Homo sapiens: one gene and its partners. The protein of the gene in region 5 interacts with the protein of the main gene of each other region in a pairwise test. Each region holds a gene or a part of one and is shown on either strand. Other genes may lie near its edges. The genes, in order: TM4SF1, SELPLG, ACOT2, PNPLA6, SLC13A1, TBRG1 and TP53I11.

The links.
Region 1: the proteins of SLC13A1 (region 5) and TM4SF1 interact in a protein complementation assay, tested with the Homo sapiens proteins (one large-scale study listed by BioGRID).
Region 2: the proteins of SLC13A1 (region 5) and SELPLG interact in a protein complementation assay, tested with the Homo sapiens proteins (one large-scale study listed by BioGRID).
Region 3: the proteins of SLC13A1 (region 5) and ACOT2 interact in a protein complementation assay, tested with the Homo sapiens proteins (one large-scale study listed by BioGRID).
Region 4: the proteins of SLC13A1 (region 5) and PNPLA6 interact in a protein complementation assay, tested with the Homo sapiens proteins (one large-scale study listed by BioGRID).
Region 6: the proteins of SLC13A1 (region 5) and TBRG1 interact in a protein complementation assay, tested with the Homo sapiens proteins (one large-scale study listed by BioGRID).
Region 7: the proteins of SLC13A1 (region 5) and TP53I11 interact in a protein complementation assay, tested with the Homo sapiens proteins (one large-scale study listed by BioGRID).

What each region holds. Positions count from the first base shown.
Region 1 is NC_000003.12:149,374,850-149,378,987, reverse strand, and holds the start of TM4SF1 (transmembrane 4 L6 family member 1), read left to right. Parts: upstream 1-1,338; 5' UTR 1,339-1,440; coding exon 1,441-1,617; intron 1,618-3,218; coding exon 3,219-3,308; intron 3,309-3,399; coding exon 3,400-3,545; intron 3,546-4,138.
Region 2 is NC_000012.12:108,623,895-108,627,394, forward strand, and holds part of SELPLG (P-selectin glycoprotein ligand 1 isoform 2 precursor), read right to left. Parts: intron 419-3,500; coding exon of another isoform or gene 414-418; coding exon 1-413. UniProt on the Homo sapiens protein: A SLe(x)-type proteoglycan, which through high affinity, calcium-dependent interactions with E-, P- and L-selectins, mediates rapid rolling of leukocytes over vascular surfaces during the initial steps in inflammation.
Region 3 is NC_000014.9:73,572,213-73,576,155, reverse strand, and holds the end of ACOT2 (acyl-coenzyme A thioesterase 2, mitochondrial), read right to left. Parts: intron 2,769-3,943; coding exon 2,566-2,768; intron 1,871-2,565; coding exon of another isoform or gene 1,787-1,870; exon of another isoform or gene 1,749-1,786; intron 1,249-1,748; coding exon 643-1,248; 3' UTR 501-642; downstream 1-500. UniProt on the Homo sapiens protein: Catalyzes the hydrolysis of acyl-CoAs into free fatty acids and coenzyme A (CoASH), regulating their respective intracellular levels. Displays higher activity toward long chain acyl CoAs (C14-C20).
Region 4 is NC_000019.10:7,545,717-7,549,216, reverse strand, and holds part of PNPLA6 (patatin-like phospholipase domain-containing protein 6), read right to left. Parts: intron 1-3,500. UniProt on the Homo sapiens protein: Phospholipase B that deacylates intracellular phosphatidylcholine (PtdCho), generating glycerophosphocholine (GroPtdCho). This deacylation occurs at both sn-2 and sn-1 positions of PtdCho.
Region 5 is NC_000007.14:123,123,470-123,126,969, reverse strand, and holds part of SLC13A1 (solute carrier family 13 member 1), read left to right. Parts: intron 1-1,294; coding exon 1,295-1,401; intron 1,402-3,500. UniProt on the Homo sapiens protein: Sodium:sulfate symporter that mediates sulfate reabsorption in the kidney and small intestine. Can also mediate the transport of selenate and thiosulfate.
Region 6 is NC_000011.10:124,621,364-124,625,663, reverse strand, and holds the start of TBRG1 (transforming growth factor beta regulator 1), read right to left. Parts: upstream 2,801-4,300; 5' UTR 2,581-2,800; coding exon 2,431-2,580; exon of another isoform or gene 734-2,430; coding exon 663-733; exon of another isoform or gene 1-662. UniProt on the Homo sapiens protein: Acts as a growth inhibitor. Can activate p53/TP53, causes G1 arrest and collaborates with CDKN2A to restrict proliferation, but does not require either protein to inhibit DNA synthesis. Redistributes CDKN2A into the nucleoplasm.
Region 7 is NC_000011.10:44,948,084-44,952,252, forward strand, and holds the start of TP53I11 (tumor protein p53-inducible protein 11), read right to left. Parts: upstream 2,801-4,169; 5' UTR 2,594-2,800; intron 2,078-2,593; exon of another isoform or gene 1,890-2,077; intron 1-1,889.

The DNA of each region.
Region 1 (4,138 bases), on a different chromosome or scaffold from region 5:
CCTTCTTCTTCTAAGCTAATGCCTCCCTACCTTGGTCCTTTTCTATTTTCTGTACTCTCTATCTTGTCCTGGTGACAAGGCCCTCCAGGCCTGGCCCCACCCGGCCACCCTGTCCACCTCCCACCACCATCCACTGGCTGGTGCAATCTGCTGTTCAAGGCATAAATTTATTCAGTGCCCAGCCCCTCCTTCTGCAAGGTAACCACCTAGAAAGTTAGTCTAACACCCTTTCTCTGCCCTGTGTGGGGAGCCTGTGGAAGCTGGTCTCAGGATCTGGCTGGGTAAACCATCTGTTTACCTCTGTGTGGGTTCTGACACTCCTAGCCAGTTCTGTTTCTCTGAACCTTGTTTCTCCACTCTGCTTGCCAAGTCCCTTTGTCTTATTTTTTTCTCCCTCTCCCTCCTTCCTTCCCTCCCCCCATCCTTCCTTCCTTTTTTCCTTCCTTCCTTCCTCCCTCCCTCCCTTCCTCCCTTTTTCCCTCTCTCCTTCTCTCCCTCCTTCTCTTCTTTCCTTCCTCTCTTCCTTCCTCCTTTCCTCTTTCCTTCTCTCCCATTCTCTTCCTCCCCCTCTCTTCTTCCTCTTTTTATTTTTGTCCCATGCTTTAGGCCTTCCTTGGCCCTTCCTGGCATTGCTTTTCCTGACAGCAACACTCAATAATTTTTAAAAAGCACCTGAGCCCTTTGTGTTGACTGATGCCACCTCTGTTGTGGTGCAGATTTGTTTTAGAGGCAGATGTCCAGGGACGCTGAACACTGAAATCCATCCTGCAGAGCTTGCTGTAGGCAGAGTAAAGAAGTTTGCTCTGTAGTTTTCCCAACAGCCTTCTCAAATCCATGGGAGACGTCTCAGACACCTTGTATTTAATAGACAAGGAAATGAGCTCAGGAGATTTGCCCCAGGTTGTAAATTAAATCAGCACAAAGGTAGAAATGAACACAGAGCTCTCAGATTGGAAGCTGTCCAGACAGCTGCATGGAGCAGGGGCACAGCTCACTGTCTTTCAAAGCCTCAACCAGGGCTGTTGCATCTCGGACACTTGGCAGTTACTGGAAAGTCATGTTAGGCTTTCCTGTTGATTCTTTATCTTGTGGAGGAGTTGCACAGTCAATGCCTTGTTCAAGATTAATCATTTTCCCTGTTGCCTATGACTGAGGCTGTTTCTCACATCCTGCCCCTGGTTTTGCCTGTCCCAAGGATTTCGTCTGAAGGGCGGGACATTCCCCCTGCCTCTTCGCACCACAGCCAGAGCCTGCCATTAGGACCAATGAAAGCAAAGTACCTCATCCCCTCAGTGACTAAGAATCGCAGTATTTAAGAGGTAGCAGGAATGGGCTGAGAGTGGTGTTTGCTTTCTCCACCAGAAGGGCACACTTTCATCTAATTTGGGGTATCACTGAGCTGAAGACAAAGAGAAGGGGGAGAAAACCTAGCAGACCACCATGTGCTATGGGAAGTGTGCACGATGCATCGGACATTCTCTGGTGGGGCTCGCCCTCCTGTGCATCGCGGCTAATATTTTGCTTTACTTTCCCAATGGGGAAACAAAGTATGCCTCCGAAAACCACCTCAGCCGCTTCGTGTGGTTCTTTTCTGGCATCGTAGGAGGTGGCCTGCTGGTAAGTCATTCAGGATTATTACTGAATTCTCTCCTGTTTCCTAGATGTTTTCATTATGTATTTTCATGGAAAGTTTTTTGTAATGCATATTTCTAAATCAAGTGACTTTTTTGTTGCTGTTCATTCCTTTGAAAGCAGATTATACAAAAGCGAGATTGGTACAGTATAGCGTAGTAATTTTATGAGATGTTGTTTTACAAAATGCTCTTTCAACTAAAAGTGAACTGCCTTTTTGCTAAACTCTATAGGTAGGAAACAGATATTCGCTTTTAAATCAGATTTGAGAGACTATAGAGTTTCTACTAGAACGGGCAGTCATTTAACATTTGCTCTGGGGAGCCGGAAGGGGTTGGCTGGTTCTCTGCCTAAATCAACAGTTTTGAATCCAAATTCTCTGCTGTTTATTTTCAGCCATCTGTGATAGGGAAAAATAATGAATTGTGAGTGCATTGCTATTTTAAAAGAACTCTAAGCTTTCTCCTTTATGTAAGGCTGGGGTGTGGCGTCTAGGAAAAACCCTACAGTTAGCAGCAGGTCGGTGTCTGAAGCTAATAGTGGAATGTGTTATTTTTTCCAAGAATTGTTTTTGATTGAAGTGAGAGGAATTTCCCTGCCAACCTGGGAGCTGAAAGCATTAGCTTCAACCACAGCATGGAAAGAATGTGAGCAAACTTAAGTTTGCTACTTTAAAGTGCTGGGATTAAAAATTTTAAGGAGAAATTTTATGGAATGGTACCATACGTGATAAATTTTCTTAATCAAGTAAAAGATAGTAAAACATTTAAACCTAATACACTGATTATGGCATGGCAAATCTGCCCTAAATTATTTATTTAATGAGATTTTATTTAATTTTATTTTATTTAATGAGACGGGGTTTCGCCATGTTGCCCAGGCTGGTCTTGAACTCATGGGCCCAAGTGACCCTCCTACCTTGGCCTCCCAAAGTGCTGGGATTACAGGCATGAGCCACAGTGCCCGTCTGCCTCAAATTTAAGCATTATTATCATGTTAACATGATTATTTGTCTTAAACATAACATCACACTTAAGTTTCTTTCGATCTTGAACCTGAAGTATTTCATATTTACTATATTTTAAGAGCTTAATATTGTTAAGTTAAAACTATGCATTTGTATAATCAAGGAAGCAGTTAATATTTATTATATATAGCTTTCATGTCTCCCATTTACAAAAAAGTTTCAGTTATTCTATTAAAGATTTGTTGGTATATTCTGCATTTTACAAGTGGAAAAAATCAGATTTAAAGAAAGGGTTTAATATTTCCAAAACAGAGTTTGTTATCTGGGGTCGTGTGATAAACTCTTGTGGAATAAACACGTTTACAGTTTATTATTTTACTCCTCCCATGTTACATCCTCACCCTAAAAAATGCTTTGACAGATTACATGAAAACAAGCAGATATGACATTTAAATGGTCTTTTTCTCCTCAGAGGTTTACATTCTTTGAGATATCTGGTCAACCTAATCAAAGCCAGTTAATGTCATTGGAAATAAATATATTTTACCAAGAGATGCCTAACCTGACCCATATGAGCCTGAGCAAGACAATGACCTGACTTTGTTTGTTTCCTAACCAGATGCTCCTGCCAGCATTTGTCTTCATTGGGCTGGAACAGGATGACTGCTGTGGCTGCTGTGGCCATGAAAACTGTGGCAAACGATGTGCGGTAGGTCCTCCTGCCCTGGTGGTGAAAATGACTCCTAAGATGTAGCTGTGGCACTCTGTGGCTCACTTCCTGTGTGTCTGCTTTTCCCTAGATGCTTTCTTCTGTATTGGCTGCTCTCATTGGAATTGCAGGATCTGGCTACTGTGTCATTGTGGCAGCCCTTGGCTTAGCAGAAGGACCACTATGTCTTGATTCCCTCGGCCAGTGGAACTACACCTTTGCCAGCACTGAGGGCCAGTATGTAATTACTCTCTACATGGCTACACATTTTTATCCACCACATGTATATAGTGGCAGCTCTATCAAACCAGATAGGCATCCACTTATCCATCCATCCACCCACCTAGCCAGTGTTTATTCTCACTGACTCAGGCATGGTTTAGGCAATAGGTATCCAAGGATGGATCCCCAGTCCCCGACCTAAACAAATTCTAAATGCTTCTTTTCTTTTCTTTCTTTCTTTTTTTTTCCCCCAGAGACAGGGTCTTGATCTGTCACCCAGGCTAGAATGCAGTGGCACAATCATAGCTTACTGCAGCCTCTAACTCCTGAGCTCAAGCAATACCCCTTCCTCAGCTTCCCAAATACAGAGTGCTTTTGAATAGATTCAATAATTCAGTCCTTATAATAACCCTATGAAGTGACTTCCTATTTTAAAGATGAGGAAACAAAATCACAGAGAGATGGAGTAATTCATCCAAGGTCACGTTGCCAGAAAGTGGCAGTTAGCATTTGAACCCAGGCAGTCTAGATGTAGAGTTTGTGTTCATATAGTGCATCTCAATTACTTCATACATTATACCAGAACAATTGCCTGATTAAGTGTAATA
Region 2 (3,500 bases), on a different chromosome or scaffold from region 5:
GGCACTGGTTGAGTGGTCTGTGCCTCCGTGGCTGCTGGTTGAGTGGTCTGTATCTCCATAGCTGCTGAATCCGTGGACAGGTTCCCCATGTTGGCCAGCTCCGTGGTCAGCTCTGTGACTGCCCCTCCTGCATCCAGGCCAGTAGAACGCCTTGCAGCAGGCTCCACAGTGGTAGACTCAGGGGTTCCAGGCCCAGTCAGAGGAGTGGTGTCAGTGCTGTTCCTCAGCATTTCTGGAGGCTCCGTTTCTGGCAGGAAATCATAATCTAGGTACTCATATTCGGTGGCCTGTCTCCGGTCCCGGGCAAGCAGGGGACCCAAGGCTTTCTCGGCTTCATCTGCCCAGGTGTCCCACAGCTGCAAGCTGTTGCCAGGGCCCAGTAGGATCAGCAACAGGAGGAGTTGCAGAGGCATGGCACCTAGGAGGAGACAATGGGCGGAGGGATGTCAAGACAGTTTCACCCTTGGGCTTAGCAAGCACCCTAGACCACCACCCTCTACTGCCACAGCTGGAAGCATGTCTGGTCTGGAGCAGGGACTGGGGACTTAGGCATCCCTGACATGCCTGGGATGGAGAAGATCCTCAGCCAGTAGCAGTTATTATTATTACTCATCAACATGAATAAAGCCATCCAGGAGGGCCCTTTAACTTCTTCTAGATGGTGCATAGAAATTGATTTGCCTCCCTCTCCATTTTGGTTAAGCCACTTTATTTGTGGACAAGACAATCCACTGGGGTGTAGAAAGATTTAGTGCTTCTGCTTCTAGTTCTATTAACTTTTCATGTCACTCCTTTTTTCTTTTTTTTTTTTTTTAGATGGAGTCTTGCTCTGTCACCCAGGCTGGAGTACAGTGGCGCTATCTCAGCTCACTGCAACCTCCACCTCCCGGGTTCAAGTGATTCTCCTGTCTCAGCCTCCTGAGAAGCTGGGATTACAGGCATGCACAACCACACCCAGCTAATTTGTGTATTTTTAGTAGAGACGGGGTTTCACTATGTTGGCCAGGCTGGTCTCAAACTCCTGGCCTCAAGTTATCTGCCCACCTTGGCCTTCCACAGTTCTGGGATTAGGCATGAGCCACTGCGCCCGACCTCATGTCACTCCTTCTTAATTTCAAGTATTACATTATTTATAATCTATCATAAGAGTAAAGTAGTACCTGCACAGAATTCATAAATAGATTAATTGACCACTTACGAAGTCCATAAGCAGAAGAGTTTGTAAACCACAGACCTCCCAGATACCGCTGCTTATTGGACCTTTGAGGCCTCTTGGAGTCTGATTCTACCTGCTGCCCCCTCTCCCTGCCCACTGCCATGCCACCTCTATATGTCTGTCTTCCTCCTTCTCCTATCTTGCTTCCACCCTCCATAGCCCTTGCCAGTCCTCAGAGTCTCAGTTTGTCTCATTCCTTCTCAATGTCTTGTCTTGGTCCCATTTGCTTTGGTGGTGTTCTTGCCTGCACAATGCACAACAGGGATGACGGTGCCTACTTCACAGCCTATTGTGAGGATAAAATGAAGGGATGCATGCAAGACCCTTAGCACTTCGTTTGCATGACAACCTCTCCGCAAAGACTGGCTGATTTAGTTCTTTCAGTCAACCTGCACTATAAGTCTTCAAGGGCCCAGGGCTACTTAATTACACTCTCCATGGCCAGGAGAAAACTCAAATCTCTTCAGAACAGCCCTGCTCTCAGGAAGCTTATAGTCACTGAGTGTGCCTGTGGGTAGGACCACTGTCTATTCAGAGACTCTACATTGTCCTCCCTACTAGGTAGCCAGAAAAGACAGTGCCTCTTGTTTGGTCATCTCATTGATCTTTCTTCTTGGCATTGTGAACACCTGTGCTTTCTTGTTTTCTTTCTCTCCCCTCATGCTCTCCTTGGCACTGGCTGGTGTTTACAGAATTAAAAATTCTATGCTGAGAATCCTATGGTGAGTGACAGCCACGTTCTGGGGCAGGATTCAGGTATTCCTGCATTCCCTGGATATAACACCCTTCAGCAGCACACAACTTTTAGAATAGTGTCTGATGCAGAGTGGGCATTCAAGAATAGCACCCGGACAATTTCCAGTCTCTTCCTTTGTACTTCATTCACATGATTTGGAGGAACGAACAGTTGCTCATCATTCCTCGGGTGACTGTAACTCACTCACGGGCCCCTCACCTTCCAGCCAGGTTCAATCTGATCTCTTTCATATGTTAGTTAGAATTATGTTGGTTTCTTTTCTTTTTTTTTTTTTTTTTTTTCTCCAAGACAGAGTCTCGCTCTGTTGCCCAGGATGGAGTGCAGTGGCACGACCTTGGCTCACTGCAACCTCCGCCTCCCGGGTTCAAGCAATTCTCCTTCCTCAGCCTCCCAAGTAGCTGGGACTACAGGCGCACACAACTATGCCCAGCTAATTTTTGTATTTTTAGTAGAGACGGGGTTTCGCCATGTTGGTCAGGCTGGTCTCAAACTCCTGACCACAAGCAATCTGCCCACCTCGGCCTCCCAAAGTGCTGGGATTACAGGGCGTGGGCCACCGTGCCAGGCCTATGTTGGTTTCAAATATGCAAATCTGATCATATCTTAAACTAATTTATTTCCATTTATTTATTGACTTACTTATATTAGAGACAGATTCTCACTTTGTCGCCCAGTCTGGAGTGCAGTAGTGCAATTATAGCTCACTGCAGCTTCGACCTCCTAGGCTCAAGTGATTCTCTCACCTCAGCCTCCTGAGTAGTAGGGACTATATGCACATGCCACCACATCTGGTTAATTTTTAATTTTTTTTTTTTTGTAGAGACGGGGTCTTGCTGTTGTCCAGGCTGGTCTCAAACTCCTGGCCTCAAGCAATCCTCCTGCCTCGGCCTCTCAAAGCACTGAGATTATAGGCATGAGCCACCACACCCGACCCACATCTTAAAATAATTTCTTAGGCCAGGTGCAGTGGCTCACGCCTGTAATCCCAACTGTTTGAGAAGCCAAGGCAGGTGGCTTACCTGATGTCAGGAGTTCAAGACTAGTCCGGCCAACATGGTGAAACCCTGTCTCTACTAAAAATACAAAAATTAGCCGGGCGTGGTGGTGCTCCCTGTAATTCCAGCTATTTGGGAGGCCAAGGCAGGAGAATTGCTTGAACCTGGGAGCCAGAGGTTGCAGTGAGCCAAGATCACACCACTGCACTCCAGTCTGGGAGACAAGAGCAAAACTCTGTCTAAAAAATAAAAAAATACTTTCTTAAACCAAACTTTACGATATTTGCACCAGAGACATCTGGCCCTCACAATTATCCCCATTTTACCAAGGACCACACTGAGGTTAAGAGAAGTGAAGTGACTTGCCCAAAGACACACAGCTGGTGAGAGGTCAAGATCAGACTGAAACCCAGTGAGGTTCAGGAAGGCATGAGGCCGTCAGGAGACACCTGACCTAGTTGAGGAGACAGAAGGCTGGGCTTGTGGACTTGGGTGGGAGAGGGAGGGCAGAGTAAGAAAAAGGAGGAGCTTG
Region 3 (3,943 bases), on a different chromosome or scaffold from region 5:
TTGCTGTTGCCCAGGCTGGAGGGTAGTAGCACAATCTTTTCTCACTGCAACCTCTTCTCACTGCAACCTCCGCCTCCCAGGTTCAAGCAATTCTCCTGCCTCAGCCTCCCAAGTAGCTGTGACTACAGGTGCCTGCCACCACGCCTGGCTAATTTTTTGTATTTTTAGGAGAGATGGGGTTTCATCACGTTGGCCAGACTGGTCTCAAACTCCTGACCTCAAGTGATCCGCCCACCTCAGCCTCCCAAAGTGCTGGCATTACAGGTGTGAGCCACCACGCCTGGCTCACTTATACTCATTCAGCAAATAATTATTGAACTCCATTTACGTACCAGACACTGTTAATTGATGTTACTCACTTTTCCTTTCAGAACTAAAGCCTTATCAGTTGTGTGTTGAGATAGGAAGAGGAGACTTTTTCCACTTCTTGTGTTTCCTACAGTTACTCCCTTCCCAAACTGATAAAGTATACAGTTTATAAAAATCTTAAAAACTCATTCTTACTGGTAAATTCATTTTAATAATGAGGGGAAAAAACTTTAGTTATTAAAAACAAAAGAATGAATACACATACACACACTAAATGTGGCAGATGTTTCCAGGAGAGATTAGCAACAGAGAGGCCACATGATCAAATAAAATTTACACTTTTGATGGGATTGTCCCCTCGTGGCCACCCAAGTGTTTGTGGAAGAAAGTCTGGAGTTGTTTCCAAGCATCCACCTGAGCCATGGCATGAGCCCTGGGCTCCCCTCCCCAGATAATAGGACTGCCCACCAAGGCATGCAGGGAAGCCCGACACAGGGGGAAGTAAGGAGGCTCAATATAGTGCCCTGTCTCTGGGTAACAGATGATCTGGGGCTTTCTCCTCCCATGGGCCTGCAAGCGTTTACAGGCCTCATTAGCATAGAACTCACTCTTCCAGTTGTGGTCATCCTGACCTACCAGGAACAGGAAGGTGCTCTCTGCCCTTTCCACAGGAATGAAGCTCTTCTGGTCAGGTCCTTCCAAAGGGCTGTTCAGGACATCCACAATGTCTGCATAGCCATCTTTGGTCACCTTGATGCGATTTCTGTTGACGCCCACAGGGGGCAGGGTCTCGCCCTTGTAGTGTAAGGTTCCCCCAACATTGGCCACAGAGCCGTTGATGACGACAGCAGCCGTGATGCCCTTCAGGAAAGAGGCCATGGAAAGGCAGAGCTCACCCCCTTTGGAAATTCCAAGCAGCCCAACTCCTGGACCTTTTACCTGAGAAAGGGACAAAGGAAAAAGAAGAAGAATGATTCCACAAACAGTGGAATATGGTGAGTTGTGTCCACCCTGGAAGTTAGTTGAACCTGAGTCTGAATCTAGGTTCTACCATTTACCCAGATTTGCAACTTTGAGAATTTACCTCCCCTCTATCTCTTCCTTTCCACAATTTGTCCATCACCACTCTTGGTGATAACCATGTGGAAGATCTATCAATTATTCTCTGGTTTCTCAGTTCCTTAATCTCGTATCTCCCATGATCTTTTTCTGTCTCCCACCTGAGCCACCCATTCCCACTGTCATAACTAAACTGAGTCATCATCAACAAGTACATCATCTCATGGCCGGGAGTGGTGGCTGACGCCTGTAATCCCAACAGTTTGGGAGGCTGAGGCGGGTGGATCATTTGAGGTCAGGAGTTTGAGATCAGTCTGGCCAACATGGTGAAACATCTCTACTAAAAATACAAGAATTAGCCGGGCAGTAGTGGCACGTGCCTGTAGTCACAGCTACGTGGGAGGCTGAGGCAGAAGAATCAATTGAACCTGGGAGGTGGAGTTTGCAGTGAGCCGAGATCATGCCATTGCACTCCAGCCTGGGTGACACAGCAAGACTCCATCTCAAAAAAAAAAAAAAAAAAATACTGGAATTTAAAATTGCATAATAACAACTACGAATCTCTTTACTAGCAGGAAATATAGTAATATAGAATTGAATAGAAACTGTCTATAAGAGGCCAGGTGTGGTGGCTCATGCCTGTAATTCCAGCACTCTGGGAGGCCAAGGTGGGCAGATCACTTGAGGTCAGGAGTTTGAGACCAGCCTGGCCAACATGGCGAAACCCCATCTCTACTTAAAAAAAAAAAAATACAAATATTAGGCTGGGCATAGTGGCTCATGCCTGTAATCCAGCACTTGGGTAGGTCAAAGCAGGTGGATCATTTGAGGTCAGGAGTTCAAGACCAGCCTGACCAATATTGTGAAACCCCGCCTCCACTAAAAATACAAAAATTAGCCAAGCATGGTGGCAGGTGCCTGTAATCCCAACTACTCGGGAGGGTGGGGCACAAGAATCACTTGAACTTGGGAGGTGGAGGTTGCAGTGAGCCAAGATCGCACCACTGGACTCCAGCCTGGCAACAGAGTGAGACTCCATCTCAAAAAAAGAAACTGTCTATAAGAAGTGACTAAAAAAGGTAGTGTGTGTTGGGGTAGGGAATGGCTGTCATGAATGAGCTAACTTCTGTGAAAACCCAGACCATTTAAGAAGAGACCTGATACATCATAGCCCATAAATCTGAAAGAAGAACTAACCTCGGGATGACTGAGCAAGTAGTTCATGGCTTCTTCAAAGTACTCCAGATGGAGCGTCTCCATGGTCTTGGGGAGGTCTTCATAGTTATAATAAGCCAGAGCCATCACAGCAAAACCCTTCCCAGCCAGCAGACTAGCCCGATACTCCAGCAGGCCACCTCCAGTTCCGAACATGTCCACAATCCCAGGAAAGGGCCCAGGTTCTTGGGAAGAAACAAAACAAAATGCAAAACTAAGCTATTCCTGAAACAGTTGGATGGTTTAAGTTAAACATATACTTACCACACATGTGACCCAGCAATCCCACTCCTAGGTATCTACCCACGAGAAATGAAAACCTGTTCGTCCAGAAACCTCTGGCAAGTGTTTATAGTGACTTTACTCGTTGTAGCCAAAGACTGGAAACAACCCAAATGTCCTTTAACTGGTGAATGAATCCATTTAATGGTGCACCACCAAGAAACAAAAAGAAAGACTGCTACATAGAAGAGCACAAATTCCTCTCCAGTGCACTCAACAGAATGCACTTACTCAACGGAGACAGACTCAAAAGGCTACTCATTCTGAATGACTCCACTTACTGATATTTTTATCATTTACATTAAAGGTTTTGTGTTTCACACAAAATTAAATAGTAATAATGCAGGCTGGGTCCGGTGGCTCACGCCTGTAACCCCAGCACTTTGGGAGGCTGAGACGGGTGGATCACCTGAGGTCAGGAGTTCGAGACCAGCCTGGCCAACATGGTGAAACCCCATCTGTACTAAAAATACAAAAATTAGCTGGGTGTGGTGGCGGCCACCTGTAATCCCAGCTACTCGGGAGGCTGAGGGAGGAGAATCGCTTGAACCCGGGAGGTGGAGGTTGCAGTGAGCCAAGATTGTGCCACTACTCCAGCCTGGGCGAAAGAGCGAGACACTGTCTCAAAAAAAAAAAAAAAAAAAAAAAAAATGCAAACACCTTACAGGCAACACTTTTAAGACATAGTTCAGTGCTGATACCCGCAAACCATCAACGTCCCACAGACCCCTGTGCCCTTTCCTCTCTTTCCAGTATCCTGGACTTTCTGTGTATCACTCTTGGTTTTCTTCATAGTATTACCACTTAGATTATGTACCTTAATATTTTATTTTGCCTAGTTTTTGAATTGTATCTAAATGGAATGATACTGAATGTGTTCTCCTAGGGTTTGACTGTTTCACTCAACAGTGGTTTGGAGATTCATCCATGTTGATTCTTTTTTTTTCTTTTCTTTTGTATATCTTGATAGATGTTGATTCTTGTAGCTGTAGTTCAATCACTTTGACTGCTGGAAATATACCTCAATTTATTAATCTGTTCTATTGTTGATGGACATTTGGACTGTTTCCAGTTGACT
Region 4 (3,500 bases), on a different chromosome or scaffold from region 5:
AGACTCCGTCTCAAAAAAAAAAAAAGAAAAAAAAGAAACATGAAGGAGAGAATAAAGACTTTGGATATAAGCACCATCTATATATAAATATAAATAAATATAAAAATATTTTTTAGCCGGGCGCGATGGCTCATGCCTGTAATCCCAACACTTTGGGAGGCCTGAGGCAGGCGGATCACGAGGTCAGGAGATCGAGACCATCCTGGCTAACACGGTGAAACCACGTCTCTACTAAAAGTACAAAAAATTAGCCAGGCGTGGTGGCGGGCGCCTGTAGTCCCAGCTACTTGGGAGTCTGAGGCAGGAAAATGGCGTGAACCCGGGAGGAGGAGCTTGCAGTGAGCCGAGATCGCGCCACTGCACTCCAGCCTGGGCGACTGAGCGAGACTCCGTCTCAAAAAAAAAAAAAAAAAAAGAAAAATTTTTTTACATAGATTATATATAGATGAGCAGCATCTCTCTCTCTATATATATATGTGTGTATATATATGTGTGTGTATATATATATATATGTTCCATATACCCAGGATTCAACCAACCTTGGATCTAAAATATTCAGGAAAAAAAAATTGCACCTGCGCAGACCATTTACAGACTATTTTCCCCGTTTTTCCCTAAATAATACAGTATAATGACTATTTACATAGCATTTACATTGTATTAGGTATTATAAGTAATCTCGAGATGATTTAAAGCAAGCTTGTCCACCCTGCTGCCCACGGGCTGCACGTGGCCCAGGATGGCTTCGAATTTGGCCCAACACAAATTCATAAACTTTGTTAAAACATTATGAGATTTTTTTTTTTTTTTTGCGATTTTTTTTCTTTTAGCTCATCAGCTATCTTTAGTGGGGTTTTTTGGTTTGTTGGTTTTGAGACGGTGTCTTGCTCTGTTGCCCAGGCTGGAGTGCAGTGATACAAACTCGGCTCACTGCAACCTCTGCCTCCAGAGTTCAAGTGATTCTCCTGCCTCAGCCTCCCAAGTAGCTGAGATTAAAGGTGCCTGCCACACGCCTGGCTAATTTTTGTATTTTTAGTAGAGACGGGGTTTCACCATGTTGGCCAGGCTGGTCTTGAACTCCTGACCTCAGTGATCCAACCGCCTTGGCCTCTCAAAGTGCTGGGATTACAGGTGTGTGCCACTATGCCCAGCTATAACTGTTAGTGTATTTTATGTGTGGTCCAAGACAATTCTTCCAATGTGGCCCAGGGAAGCCAAAAGATTGGACACCCCTGATTTAAAGTATACTGAAGGGGCTGGGTGTGGTGGCCCACAACTGTAATCCCAGAACTTTGAGAGGCCTAGGTGTGAAGATCGCTTGAGCCCAGGAGTTCAAGACCAGCCTGGGCAACATAGTGAAACCCTGTCTCTACAAAAAAAAAAAAAAAAAAAAAAAAAAAAAAAATTTTTAATTAGCCAGGCATGGTAGCATGTGTCTATAGTCCTGGCTACTCTGGAGGCTGAGGCAGGAGGATTGCTTGAGCCTAGATGTTTGAGGTTGCAGTGAGCTATGATAGCGTCACTACACTCCAGCCTAGGCTACAGTGCAAGACCCCGTCTCTAAAATAAATTAAAGGCCAAGTGCGGTGGCTCACGCCTGCAATCCCAGCATTTTGGGAGGCCAAGGCAGAAGGATCGCTTGATAGTTTCAGCCCAGGAGTTGGAGACCAGCCTGGGCAACATAGTGAGACCCCCGTCTCTAAAAAAAGTAAGAGTAAAATGGGCAAAAGATCTGAATAAAAACTTCTCCAAAGAAGATATACAAATGGCCAATAGGCACATAAAAAGCTGTTCAACGTCAAGTCATTAGAGAAATGCAAAGCAAAACCACAATGACATACTACACTTCACACCCACAAAGATGGCTAGAATTACAAAGGGTTAGAGAGAATGTAGAGAGACTGGAATTCACATACACTGTCAGTGGAAATGTAAAATGGTGCCGCTGCTTTGGAAAACAGTCTAGCAAAGAAACAAACAAACACACAGTGCTTAAAAAAATTAAAAATAGAGGCTGGCCATGGTGGCTCACATCTGTAATCCCAGCACTTTGGGAAGCTGAGGTGGATGGATCACTTGAGGTCAGGAGTTCAAGACCAGCCTGACCAATATGGTGAAACCGTGTTTCTACTAAAAATACAAAAATTAGCTGGGCGTGGCAGCGTGTGCCTGTAATCCCAGCTACTCAGGAGGCTGAGACAGGAGAACTGCTTGAACCTAGGAGGCAGAGGTTGCAGTGAGCTGAGATCGCGCCACTGCACTCCAGCCTGGGCGACATAGCGAGACTCCCTCTTAAAAAAAAAAAAAATTGAATTGGCTTATAACCCAGCAATTCAACTCCTAGGTATATACCCAAGAGAAATGAAAACATATGTCCAAGCACTTTGGGAGGCCAAGGTGGGAGGATCACTTGAGCCCAGGAGTTTAAGACCAGCCTGGGAAACATAGTGAGACCCCACCTTTAAAAAAATAAATAAAATATATGTCTACACAGAAGCCCTTACATAAGGCCGGGTGCAGTGGCTCATGCCTGTAATTCCAGCACTTTAGGAGGGTGAGGCAGGCGGATCACCTCAGGTCAGGAGTTCAAGACCATCCTGGCCAACATGGCGAAACCCTGTCTCTACTACAAATACAAAAATTAGGTGGGCATGGCCAGGTGCAGTGGCTTATGCCTGCCTCAGCTTCCCGTGTAGCTGGGACTACAGGCATGCGCCACCATGCCTGGCTAATTTTTTTTGTTTGTTTTTTGTAGAGACTGGGTTTTGCCATGATGCCCAGGCTGGTCTCGAACTCCTGGACTCAAGAGATCCTCCCGCCGCGGCCTTCCAAAGTGCTGGGATTACAGGCGTGAGCCACTGTGCCCAGCCTAAAGTATATACTTTAAATGGGTAAATTGTATAGTACATGAATTATAGCTCAATAAAACCATTACACCCCCCCAAAAAATATTGTTTCACTTGAGGCCCACTGACTTCCTTTTTTATTTCTTAGAGATCAACCTATTTCTTCCCACCACACAACATTTGCACAAGCTCTTCCTTCTGCCTAGAATGACCTTTCCTCCCACCTGCACCCAGTTTGTTCCTCCCCCTCCTTCCTTCTTAGGTCATGCCCTTAGAGGTGCCACCCTGTCTAAGCCAGACTTTGTAGTGCCAAGATCATTTCCTTTGTGACACTAAGCACTTATGATTTTACAAGAATTTGTGTAATCCTTTGAGTCATGTCTCTCAGAATACGGTGGGCTGCCCAAGGGCAGGGACCACTAAGGGTTTTCCCTGCCCACTTTTTTTTTTTTTTTTTTTTTGAGACAGGGTCTCACTCTGTTGCACAGGCTGGAGTGCAGGGGTGCGATCTCAGCTCACTGCAACCTGTCTCCTGGGTTCAAGTGATTCTCCTGCCTCAGGCTCCCGAGTAGCTGGGACTAGAGGCGCCCGCCATCGTGCCTGACTAATTTTTGAATTTTTAGTAGAAATGGGGTTTCACCATGTTGGCCAGGA
Region 5 (3,500 bases):
GGCATTAAGAATTTCTAAAGCTAACATGATGTATCAAGATTTATAGCTACCACCTAATGTTTTCATTCCATCTGTTTGTACCTGGACTGAATTCAATGTGTCTTTTTATATAAAACGAAATCTGGTTACATGATGCCTGGCCCAATTTGCCAAAAATACAACCAAAAATTATAACTGAAATAAAAGAAATAAGGTATAATAAAATTATAAATATCGGTCCAGTTTGTAAGATAAATTATGGTAAGGTAGATTTTTAACTAGTAATGAAAGAAAATGTGTCTATACTTAAAGAAAGTAGACTGCTTTAAAAATTGCTAGATTGAGAAAGATACGGCATTTCTTTGGCTTTTTAGATTTTTCAAATAAATTATAGAAGTAGAGAAGCTTCGGTAGTGTATACATATTACTGAGTTGCAAGATAGTAAAAGAATCTTTAGCATGGTACATATTTCTTCTCAGGCTACAGAAATGCACTAGTTAATATTGCTGACTTTTAACACTAAATGCTAATTATTAATGCCTATTTCAGTTATATCTGGTCTCCAGGTTCTTTCCTGTTGAGGCTTCTGGGAATCTGTCTTATTTGTTACAATGGTCTGGTGATTCTAAGACCCCATCTGTTCCTGAATCAGTCTTAATTTATATGGTGATCATTTGTGAGCATTGGCTAAACCACTCCAACAATTAATATTCTTGATTGAATTTCATGGGGTGCAAAAAATTAAGTAGGTTGCTTTCCTTTGTATGATATGGTTAGAGCTTATAAACACAGAAGCAGGTGTGATATCTCAGAAAACAGATCAATTCCTTTTCACAATTTATAGAAGAGCTTTAGAGGAACACAGAAATATCACGCCTTGCCACAATTTAATAGAAGGATGTTATAAATCAATTATATGGGGCTTTCCATGCTCTAGCAATGTTTCAACTTCAAATCTTGATCAATATTATTAAATTAAATAATTCAAAGAAGAAATTGTTTAACAAATCTGTAAGCTTATCTAAAAGGGAAATTTGCCACTTTGGCCTAGTATGTCAGCATGTGTATACGTGGTATTGAAAATAAGAAGAGATATATGGGAACAATAAGACTATGGTCTGAGATTATTGTTTTTAGTGTTGTGTCATTTAATCGGGAATCCATATATTTTAGGGCAGATTATTGAGGATAAATAACCTACACCACCTACTACTGATAATAACCTATTACTGATATGTTATTAGCAAAATTGGTGTTTTAGCTCATTTAAGTTCTTGATGCTATTTTTAATACATGTATTTGTCCCTTTTACAGGTACCCTGGTTTTGCTACAGATTCAACTGTTGCTTTACTTATAGGGCTGCTATTCTTTCTTATCCCAGCTAAGACACTGACTAAAACTACACCTACAGGAGAAATTGGTTGAGTATCATTTATAATTCTGCATAAATTTAACAGAAGAGCAAAAATTACAAAATTCCATTGGTTTCGCTTGGCACCTAGAGCAGAAAGAAAGTCTATGCTGGCACAATCCCTGGCCTAGCATGCCCTATTTGCAAACTGCAATGCTGTCTTCAAGCCAGCACAGCTTCCACCTTCAAGAGAGATCGTCTTACTTTGCAGAAGTGAGAAGTAGATTTCCTTTTGTATCATGGCTAGGGCTCTGCTACAAGCGATACTATTTGACCCATGGTAAACTCACTTCAAAATTAATCTTACTATTGGCAAACAGAGGAAAAAGAACTTGGAAGACACTGCTTCATTATGATACCTTGGTAATAAATGCAGAGGATCTAAAAAGGTGATGAATTTCAAGAGAAAGAGTATTTACATTCTCAAAGTAGTTCTGGAACAAAAGCTAAATAAACCTCACATAGCCATATCCTAGGATCACAGCTGAAATAAAAGGGCCAGATGTGGTGGCTCACACCTGCAATCACAGCACTTTGGGAGACTGAGGCAGGAGGATCACTTGAGGCCAGTAGTTTGAAACAAGCCTTGGCAGCATGGTGAGACCCCAGCTCTATCAAAAAATTAAAAAAATTAGCCAGGTGTGGTGGCCAATCTGGAGGCCAACGCAGGAGGATCACTTGAGCCCAGGAGTTGGAGGCTGTAGTGAGCTATGATTGTGCCACTGCCCTGGGCAACAGAGGGAGACTCGGTCTCTAAAAATAATGATAGTAATAAAAATAAAGAAAAGGTATTCTGTGACAGCATTCATTGTATTTACAACACATGAACAAAGAAGTGTGCACATTTGCCTGAGCATACCATCCTCTCAACACACACACACACACACAGACACACACACTTTTTAAACACAAGATTCATCCATATCTTTGCTTTACAACACAGCATGTTTTGAGTAGTCAGATTCCTATCTTGTCAATGTGGGACAACTAATTTGTAATTGTCTGGAAATTAACTAGTAGACTTGTGGTTTTGTTTGTTTGTTCTTATGGGGATGGAACTGGGATTTATGTAGTTGTGTTGGCCCACTTGACTCTTGTCAGAATCTATAAATGACTAATGTATCAGATTTCCAGGACATATGTGACCAGCACAGCATAGAAACAAATGTACTTTGTTTTTCACTTGAGATTAGAATATCTCAATGTGTGTTAAGGAGGTGATGCAATATGGAGCATTGATTCCTATGGGACCCCAAGGACTCTGATCATTGCAGTCAAAGCCCTGAGGTCTGGCAGTGGCAAGTACTGAGGAATCCATGTTTGGCTTTAGCTTCCCTGGTTTCCACATCTGAATTCCCTCCCTTAGAAAGAGCCTTGCTCCTACCCACCTTTCTCTCTCCCCTCATTCTTCAAAACCTCTTCTCCCTGCTAAAGTCATTCATACAAGGCTTAAAAATGACAAATAATATATAAATATGTTAAATTTTAAATAAGAAGTACTTGTCAGAGATGTTTACATTTTAACAAGATATATGACCTTAAAGTAAGAAACCTGGTGACATAATTTCAGTTATCAGTGAGGATGGGTTTGGTTTGGATTTGGGGGAAGATGATAGGAAGGAAGCTTATTGGTAAACTTAAAATCTTACCATGTAGAAGGCTGCCTGTTATACACAAGTTAAATGGGCAGAATATGTCTCCAAATGAACTTCTTTATCAACAAAGCAATGGAGAGATCAGAAGCCAAATATAAAGAGAAATCTTTATGATAATCCTTTTATAAGCACTTTAAGAACCTCATAAATAATACTTTATTTAATCTGAATCTTGAATTATTTTTAAACTGAAATCTTGGTGAATCTATCATGATCCTCCTTATGACCTAAAAACTAATAAAATGTTCAAATATTAATGGATAATAATTAAAATGCTACAAGATGCTATTGGAACCAATGGAATATTATGGACATTTTGCATAGCAAAGAATATTATAGTCTAATGCACTGTGCTATTCACAGTTGGCAAAGATGTTAGTGGAATATAAATGAATGAGTGAGTGAATGAATGAGTACCATTATAAGTGACAATGTTATAATTTATTGAAATAT
Region 6 (4,300 bases), on a different chromosome or scaffold from region 5:
CAGGAAGGAAAGGAGCAGAGAAATGAACTTCCGTATTGTCTCAATTCAGTATTTTACTCAAGTACTGGGAAAAGCCAGAATTATATACAAAGATTACTATACTCATAAAAGAAAGGTTCTTATTAGGCCCTATGAATCATAAAGCCCTGGAGGATAATCAATACTTCAAGAGGCCAAGGATAAGAACTGTAGCTTATCTCTTGCATCTGGACGGTTCCTCTACCTTGATGTTGGACGGTGTTAGGCTTCTGAAAGGCACATTATTTACACATGTATATATACCCATTGTGCTTTGCACAGAATAGTACGTACAGAATAAATATTTGTAGAACGAGAGGCAGTTGCTTTTATCACTTGGCTTTTATAATTGGGCCATAAGATTAAATAATCTTAGTAAGATTATTTATTAGATGTGGCAAGATGGCTTTTTCAGAAAGATGAGTAGAGGAGCTGTCTCATCGCCATGGCCCAACATAACTTGGGTGTGCAGGCACCAATGCCTCAGGCTGTAAGTTTCTCTGTGCTTGATCAAGTGGCCAAGGGGCTGTGCGATACGCATCAATCCCACTGGGAAAAAAAGTCTCCAGAGCAGTAACACCATTATCAATCACCAAATCAATCACCAAAAAGGTGATGCTGAACACAAAATGAAGCCAGCTCACCTTCTTTCTTCTTTTGCTTTAAGAAATTTTTCCTCAAGACGAGCAATTTCATCACAAATAGCAGCATTTTCCTTTAAGTAAAAATGTGAATATAATAACATAAAATGAATAAAAAAATCACATTATTATGCTGGGAAGAGGATCCATATTTCAAACCAAAAAAGCTTGTATTACTGAGAAGAAGGAGCTATTCGACCGTGTGACAAACTATAAATAAATCCATAGATAAAGGTAGTCAGGTTCTACTATGGACAGGGTATAGCTATGTAATTTATTATCCAATCCGGGACATCTTTGAGTGAAAAGGGGGTACTATTAATGCTTATGCCAGAACAATACGGTGAACCAGGACTGTCCTGGGCAAGCCAAGATTAATGGTCACCCTAATTAGTATAGCCTTTGGCAAAGAAAAAGGCATACTGCTTAAATCCTTATATGCTTAAATTAAATACTATAAATATGAAAACTGTCTATTCCCAAGTGCCTCAACTCTTGAAAAACTTACAAAGCCAGTCTAACCCAAATAGAGAAAAACTGGACAGAACAAAATCAAATTTAGTGTGTAAAATTCTTAAACTTCACAATCTACTTATACGAATTCAAGTATTATCTTTTTTCTTTTTTTTTTTTTTTTTTTTGTAAATGATGACTCAATCTATCTCCCAAGCACCAATCCTGAAGGGAATGCTGAATCTGAATGCCCCCATAGGTGGAACTTCAAACTCTCAATGTTCAAAACAACATCGCTTTTTCTTCACAAAATCTTCATTATGTATTTGATGGAACCAATATCCTTGAAATAACATAAATTCCAAGCTTTAGGTACCTTTGACGTATAGGGGATAAAAGAAAGGGAACAGTCAATCAGATGCTAAGTTCTCTTAGTTTTACTTTTCTTGTTTCTCTCCAGTGCAAATAGCAAGCAATACACATAGCAAGTGCTGAATAAGTGCTTTTGGAATGTGTATTCTAATTTCTGAACCTTTCCTTATGCTTCCAAAAATGCTGAGAGACGTTCAAGCTTTTGGTAGAGAGAAGAGATGAACTGTTGACTTGGATGTGGGGGGACATTTGAGGACTCCACCCCTATTTCCAAGCACTGAGGCAAGCCAAACTATTCTAATATAAAGTTATGGCTGGCAAGCTATATTAAGTTTATTCACTCAATAAATCCAGTGCTTCTACAATAAAAGAAAGGAAGAAACACTTGGAACACTCAAAGGTTAGAGGGGGGAAATTACTGACAGTTTCATGTACCTCTTTGGGCAAAGGGTCAGTTATGGGGATTTGAGGTGCTCAGAAAATAGTCTGTGTACTGGAAGTCATAAAACGGAATCAGGTTTATCTAAGTTGGAGTCAGGGCTCTGACACAGTACCCTTGGGCAAATCATCTCTCTGGGCTTCAGTGTTCTCATTTTACAAATAATGCCTAATTCTCAGGGCTGTATCTCGAGAATCAAACACATTTCCTAGAGTCCTGCAGTAACAACGATGACTAAAATTTATTGGTATGTCTTTTACGCACCAAGCACTTTTCTTTACTCATTTAATATTCATTATTCTGCAAGACAGTTACTAGCTCATTTACAGATGAGGACACAGAGAAATTACGTAATTTGTCCAAGGACACAAGGCTAACAAGTAGTAACGTATACGGAAAAGCCAACACTGTATTAATACTGTCACACTGGGAAGGGGGAACAGCTTGGGGAAAGATTTTGTGAGGGAGTCTCCAGGAGGGGACCGGCTGAACGTGGGTCAGACTCACAAACACCGTGGCCTTGGCCGCTTTGCGCAGCCGCAGGTACTTCAGCCGGTACTTCTCATTCTGGCTCTTCTTCGGGAGCTTTTTCATCCTGGCCTTGCTGGACTGCAGCGGAGCCCGCGGCGAGGAAGCGAGGCCGTCCAGCAGGCTCATGGTCCAGCCCCGCTACGGGGGCCCCAGGACGCTGCCGGCATCGGATCCTAAGTCGGGGAGCGGGCGGGAGCGCTGGCTTTGTCTGTTCCGGGCTAGCGGAATCGGGCCTCTAGGAATCTAGCTCTCCGGGACGTTCCCAGGGCTGACCGCAGGGCCAGAGACACCCGCAACCGAACGGGCTCCCGGCGCCTCCCAGCACTTCCGTGTCTGTCTTGGAAGTAAGCCCTTCCCGGAAGTTACGTCCCGGTGTCGGCAGTGTGTAACTTCCGGGGCAGGGAGAGTAGGGTGGTCTGGGCGGTGCGATCGTGGGCACCGGGAGGAAAGAGACAGCTGGGGGCTAGTGCTGGATGAGGAGAGGAGGGAGGGCCGGCGGCCGTGTGCTTAGCTGAAGGGTACTATAGTTGAACCAACGAACTAACAAGAAGCTTACCAATGCGAGCTCTCATTCACGCTCCCCCGCTGGGCCACTGCGTTTTAATACGTTTTTCATGCTTCGTGCAGACAGGCTTTCCCAGACTGTAGGACAAAGTGAGCCCAAGTGCTGGGACTCTGCTTCTTTCCCTGCTTCGTTCCTTTCTGCAGCTCACAGAAATGTGTTTGCAGGGCCTCCTAATGCTATCATCTTCCCAGGAGCTGGGAACACAGTAGTGAACAGGAAGAAAGGCCTTGGCTCTTTCTAGTAGGGAAGATGAGAGATTTAACACGCAGTTTTAATACTAGCACTAAGTAGGCACTCAGTAAATGTTTGTCTAGTGAAACCAGAAGTGTATTTCTGTACATAATATGTACATGTATATGGTTCTAACTTTACAACCAAGGTCTATTTAAAATTAGGGAAGATAGAAAAATCTTTAGGGTGCGGTATTGGTAAGTGACCCAGGCTGGATGGCAGAAGGCTTGCTTGCATCTTCTTCCAGCGATGCCAATAACTAGTTCAGTAACTCTCTAGTTTTTTCTCTCAAAAAAAAAATTTGCTGTTCTGCTGTATTTTGTCCTTGCGGGCTTTGGGGTCTGACTTTATTTGTATTATTTATTTTCATATACATGTATCACATCTAGGGGGAAGAAAAGTGCTATCCTTTGTCCTAGTTTGCAGGCTGTTTTGGCCAATGGACTTTAGTGGGATTTGCATGAAGATATTTTTTGTTTCTTCTTCATTGGACACATTTCCTTACACTTACAAAACATTTCATTCGAACTTTAGAAATTTAGAAAATATAGTACAAGAAAGGTTTAAAAATCCATAATGCTACCACTTGGAATGAACTACTTTTACCATGTTAGTATATGTGTCTAATATTTTATGCATTTTTGTATAGGTTAGACAATACTGAAAATAAAGTTTTCTTTTTGTTCATTTACCATTGTATCATTTCAGTTTCACAAATGTTAGTATAGCTTCCTTATAAGCATAATTTTAAGTGGCTGGTTAATATTCCAGTTATGGCTATATTATATTTTGCATAATTATTTCCATGTTCTTTGACTTTTTGGTCAATTCCATTAAAAGCATATCTTTGCGTCCAAAGCTTTTTCCATATAGGACTGTTCAGAGGCTGGATATGTGTGCTCCACAAAGGTCATGCCACTGAGCAACTCATTCAGTCCTTATTTGTTTAGAAGAATATTTACCTAGTGCCTATTATGATACCACCTTTAAGAACCTTAATTTAAGAAGGAAAGACAGACAAGTAAATTGGCAATGTTAATATGGTATAAT
Region 7 (4,169 bases), on a different chromosome or scaffold from region 5:
CGATGCTGCGCTGGCCCTGGGAGGGGTCCAGCCAGTGTAGCAGGATAAACAGTGAGACACAGGGTGCCGGGGAGGTATCGTGGACCAGGAGTCAGAACATCAGGCACCCCGCCCTGCAGCTGCCTCTCCTGGCCTGTGTGTCCTGGGGTGACTGACATACTGTCTCTGAGCCTCACTTCCCTCACCTGTGAAAGGGGAGGAATTCATCCCTTCTCAGTCACTCACTCTTCCTCAGCCCCTCACTCCCTGCTAGCTGCAGGGTAGGCACATTCCAGCCTCAGGGCCTTTGCATGGGCTGTGCTCTAGCTGTCTACACAGCTCACTCCCTCATCTCCCTCAAGGCTGTAGCTCAAAAGTTACCTCCTCAGGGAGACCTCCCTGACACCCTATTTAAAATGACAACCCGGTCCCTGGCCTCAATACCCCCAACACAACTTTTCCCCTTCACCTCTCAGTACACTATATAATTTGCTTATTGTTTTTATTAGGGAATTGCCTCCCCCTGCCCCCTGCTTTTAAGCATCAGCTCCATGAGGACAAAAATTTTTATTTTGTCCACAGCTGTCTCCCCAGTGCCTGAAACTGTCCCTGGCACTTTGCTCCATAAGCCATTTTTGGTGTAATGCTCACAAACATTTTGTTCAATAAGCAAAAGTAAAGAACAGCCCCAAACTGTGTGACTATGGGGCATTCCTGTTAAATCCAGCCCCCTCCTCCCCCATACCCCAAGAGGGGCAGGCCCTTCTTCCCACAGAGGTGGGGCTATCAAAAGAAATTGGGAGGCTGGGTGTGAGCTGGAGAAGCCACAAGGGGCCTGGAGGCAGAGCTGTGCAGAAAATAGGTCGCAGTCCTAGAACTGGCAGGTCATGACAGCTGGACATGGGTGAAGGGGCTTTCGGCCTTAGCCCTCCACTCCAAATTTGGAAGCACGGAGGAAGTTGACGACATGTGACTGGGAAAGAAGCGGCCATGGCAGGGGCCTCCTGGGATGGTGGGGACAGAGGGGGCCTCAGGAACAAGACGACCCATTTTACAGATGGGACAACAGAAGCCTGGAGAATAGTCTTATTTCCTAACAACCCAACAAGAAAAATCTTTTCTCTCCTTTCTCGAAGTCTGGGGCTGAGGCTAAGGAGCGGACAGTGCCCCCTCCTGGCTCTGCAACAAAACGACCCCCGCGTCCCTGGGATCTGCGGGCCGCAGATCCTGGTCCCCTCTCCACAGGCCGTCAGGGGTGGAGGTCCAAGGGACCACATAGTTGGGGTGGGCAGCCCCGGTGACTTCTCCCCGCAGGCCCGCCCCGTCAAGAAGTTTGTTTGAAAGAAACCAATCAGGAAGTGCAGGGTAGTGGGGCGGTGAGGGGGCCTTGGCCAGCCGCTCTGGGCTTTGGAGGAGCCTGGGGGTTCTTGGCCTCCGCGCTGCTCTTGCCCCAGCCTCCATCTCTCCGGCGGAGAAACCCACTCCCCCCGGGCTCCAGGAAGAGGCGGAAGCCCGAGACTGGGTCAGGGCGAAGGAAGGTAGAGCGAGGGGACCCAAGGCGAGCGCCCCGCCCCGCCCCGCCCAGCGGGGCGCGCCGGGGTGGGCGCGGCGTTCTGGCCCTTCCTCCACACAGCCTCCCCCGGGTAGGTGCGAGTGTTCTGCCCACGGCAGGGGCCCTAACCCACCCAGCGCCCGGCCAGTGGCCCCACACTGTACCCTTCCTGCAGATCGCGCGACTTTGGGGAGAGTGGGGGGCGTCTCCACCTGTGCGTCCCCTACCCACCCCCTAACTGGGCTAAGGCGCGGCCTGGGTTTCTGCCCGCCCCTTTCCAGCCTGGGGACGGGGGACTCTCTCAGCCTCGCCCCTCCCCCTGCAATCTGTCCCTGATGTCCCCGCTCCAGACACTCACCCACTTTCTGAGACCCAGGCCTCAGCGCCGGTGTCCCCCGGCGGTGAGCTCCGAGCCGTTAGGCGGCCCCGGGTTCTCCGGCCCAGGGCCCCTGCCCCCAGGCCCCCACCCCAGAAGGTCGGGCCAGACTTGTGGGCAGCGGGAACTCCGCCACCACCTCCGTCCGCGGCCCTGCGGGGGCAAAGACTGGGGGAACTCGCAAGTTTGCGCCGCGCACTCCTCCTGCCGGGAACAATGGCGGGAGGGGGAGGGGACAGAGAACCGAGCGCGGGGGACCGAGTCAGACCCCGGGGAGACAGAAACTGCTTTCGCTCCGTTTCTCTCCTGCTCTGAAGCAGAAAGCTCGAGCCCGAGAGGCAGTGGCCGAGGACGAAATAAGCAGTCCAGGAGGAGGGCGACCGCGGAGCCGGGGGAGAGGGGAAACCGAGTCAGAGGGAGGGGCGGCGAGGGGAGAGCGCGCAGGGGAGACGGAAGGGGCTGCGGGACGGCGCCTTGGGGAGCTGGGGAGGCGACCCCCTGGGGTCCCAGCGGGCTCAGCGGGTGCCGAGATGTCCCGGGGCGCCCGGTTAGCGCGCGCGGGGTCCCGGCCGCCCCTCTGCGGTCCCGTCGGCCGCAGGAGCCCCGCTGGGTTGCGCTGCGCAGGCGGCGGGCGGCGGGAGGGGAAAGTCCGCGGCTCGGAAGCGGCGGCGGGGAGCAGAACTTACGGGCCTCGCGCGTGCCGGCGCTGGGCTACGTGGAGCTGATGCCAGGCGGAGGCTCCGGGCTCGGACGCCTCACATCGCGCCGCCCGTGCCGGGCCGGGCAGTGCAGGGCAGGGCAGGGCAGGGCAGGGCAGGACAGGGCAGGGCAGGGCAGGGCCGGGCCGGCTGGACTGCGCGCGGCGCCCTGCGCGGCCGGGGCTTACCGAGTCTGGCGGCCCGCGCTGGTCCCTCCTCTCGGTTCCGCGCACAAGCCAATGGCGCGCCGTCCCCTCCCACGCGCCGGGCTGCCTCGCCCCCAGGGTGGCCGCCGGGGCGGGCGGGATGGGGGTTGGCGGGGAAACCAGGCTCCCGGCTCCCCCGCGAGGCTCTCCCGGGGGCCGCCTGCAGGGGGCGCACGCGCGCCCGAGAGAAGGCGCCGGGGGAGGAAGCCGCGCGGGGAGACCCTGGCGTGGCCCGCGCCGCCCAGGATGACTTTCCTGGCAAGTTCTGCAGACGGTGCCCCTTTCTTGGGACGATCAACGTAGATGGGCAAACCACACCATCTTAAATAGCCTTGCGGTGTCTCCCGGGCCCAGGCCGGTGCCTGAAATGGAAGGGACTGCTTTGGCTGGCGGTGATACCCAAGTGTGTAATAACACAGTCACGACAATAGTCACCGTTTGCTGCGCACTCTCTGATGCCAGACACCATATGCTAAAGGAGTTACAAGTATTAACTCATTTGATTTTCACAGCAACCCATAAGGGCGCTGTGCTTAGTCCCATTTTACAGGCCATGGTCGTTAAAGTTTGAGTTCACTCAGCCTTCAGGCTTCCAGCCTAGGCCCACCCTTCTCTCTCCCTGCTTGGTGTGACTTGGCCAAATAACATGACCCCACTGTCACTACGGCCACCTTCTTCATACTCCACCCTAAAATCCAGCCTCAGAGATGCTGCTGTCAGTTGCGCTGTCAGGAGGCTAGGATCTTATCTGGGGCTCTAGGACGCTTGTTGGCGCTACAGTTGTCAAACCTTTTGTCTCTACACATCCTATGGGGGGCTGGGGTGAGGATGAGGGTTGGGGGTCATGGAGGCTCTCTGGTGGCGTGTCAACCTGAGAGAACCAGGCTCCTACAGACAAGGCCCCACCCCCAAATTCTGGGCTCCTTCAACCCCTTATGGTGGGAAAATAATGTGCTCTCTCCCACCCCAACCCCCACCACCCTGTGCTCTCCTTAGAGAAATGCCTGGATCTCTTTCATCTGATCTGATGGTCACAGTGGGCCAGGAACCGGGGTGGGGGGCTGCGGGAAAAGGAAGGCAAGGCTGATGACATGCTCCATTTCACAAGTAAATAAGACAGAAAGAGGTGAGTGGCTGCCTCAGGCATCTAGCTAGGTGGGCATTCTGACTCCAGGTCTCGGTTCTGTCTGCACCAGTTCCTTAACGGTTAATAGAGCAGGCTCTGGAACCAGATCACCTAGGTTCAAATCCTGACTCTGCCTTTTAGTGCCTGTGTGGCCTTGGACAAAGTAAGTCACCTAGAGCAACCAATAGTAAGAACCGGCTATGGTTGCTGTAGAGATTTAGAGTTAATAGGA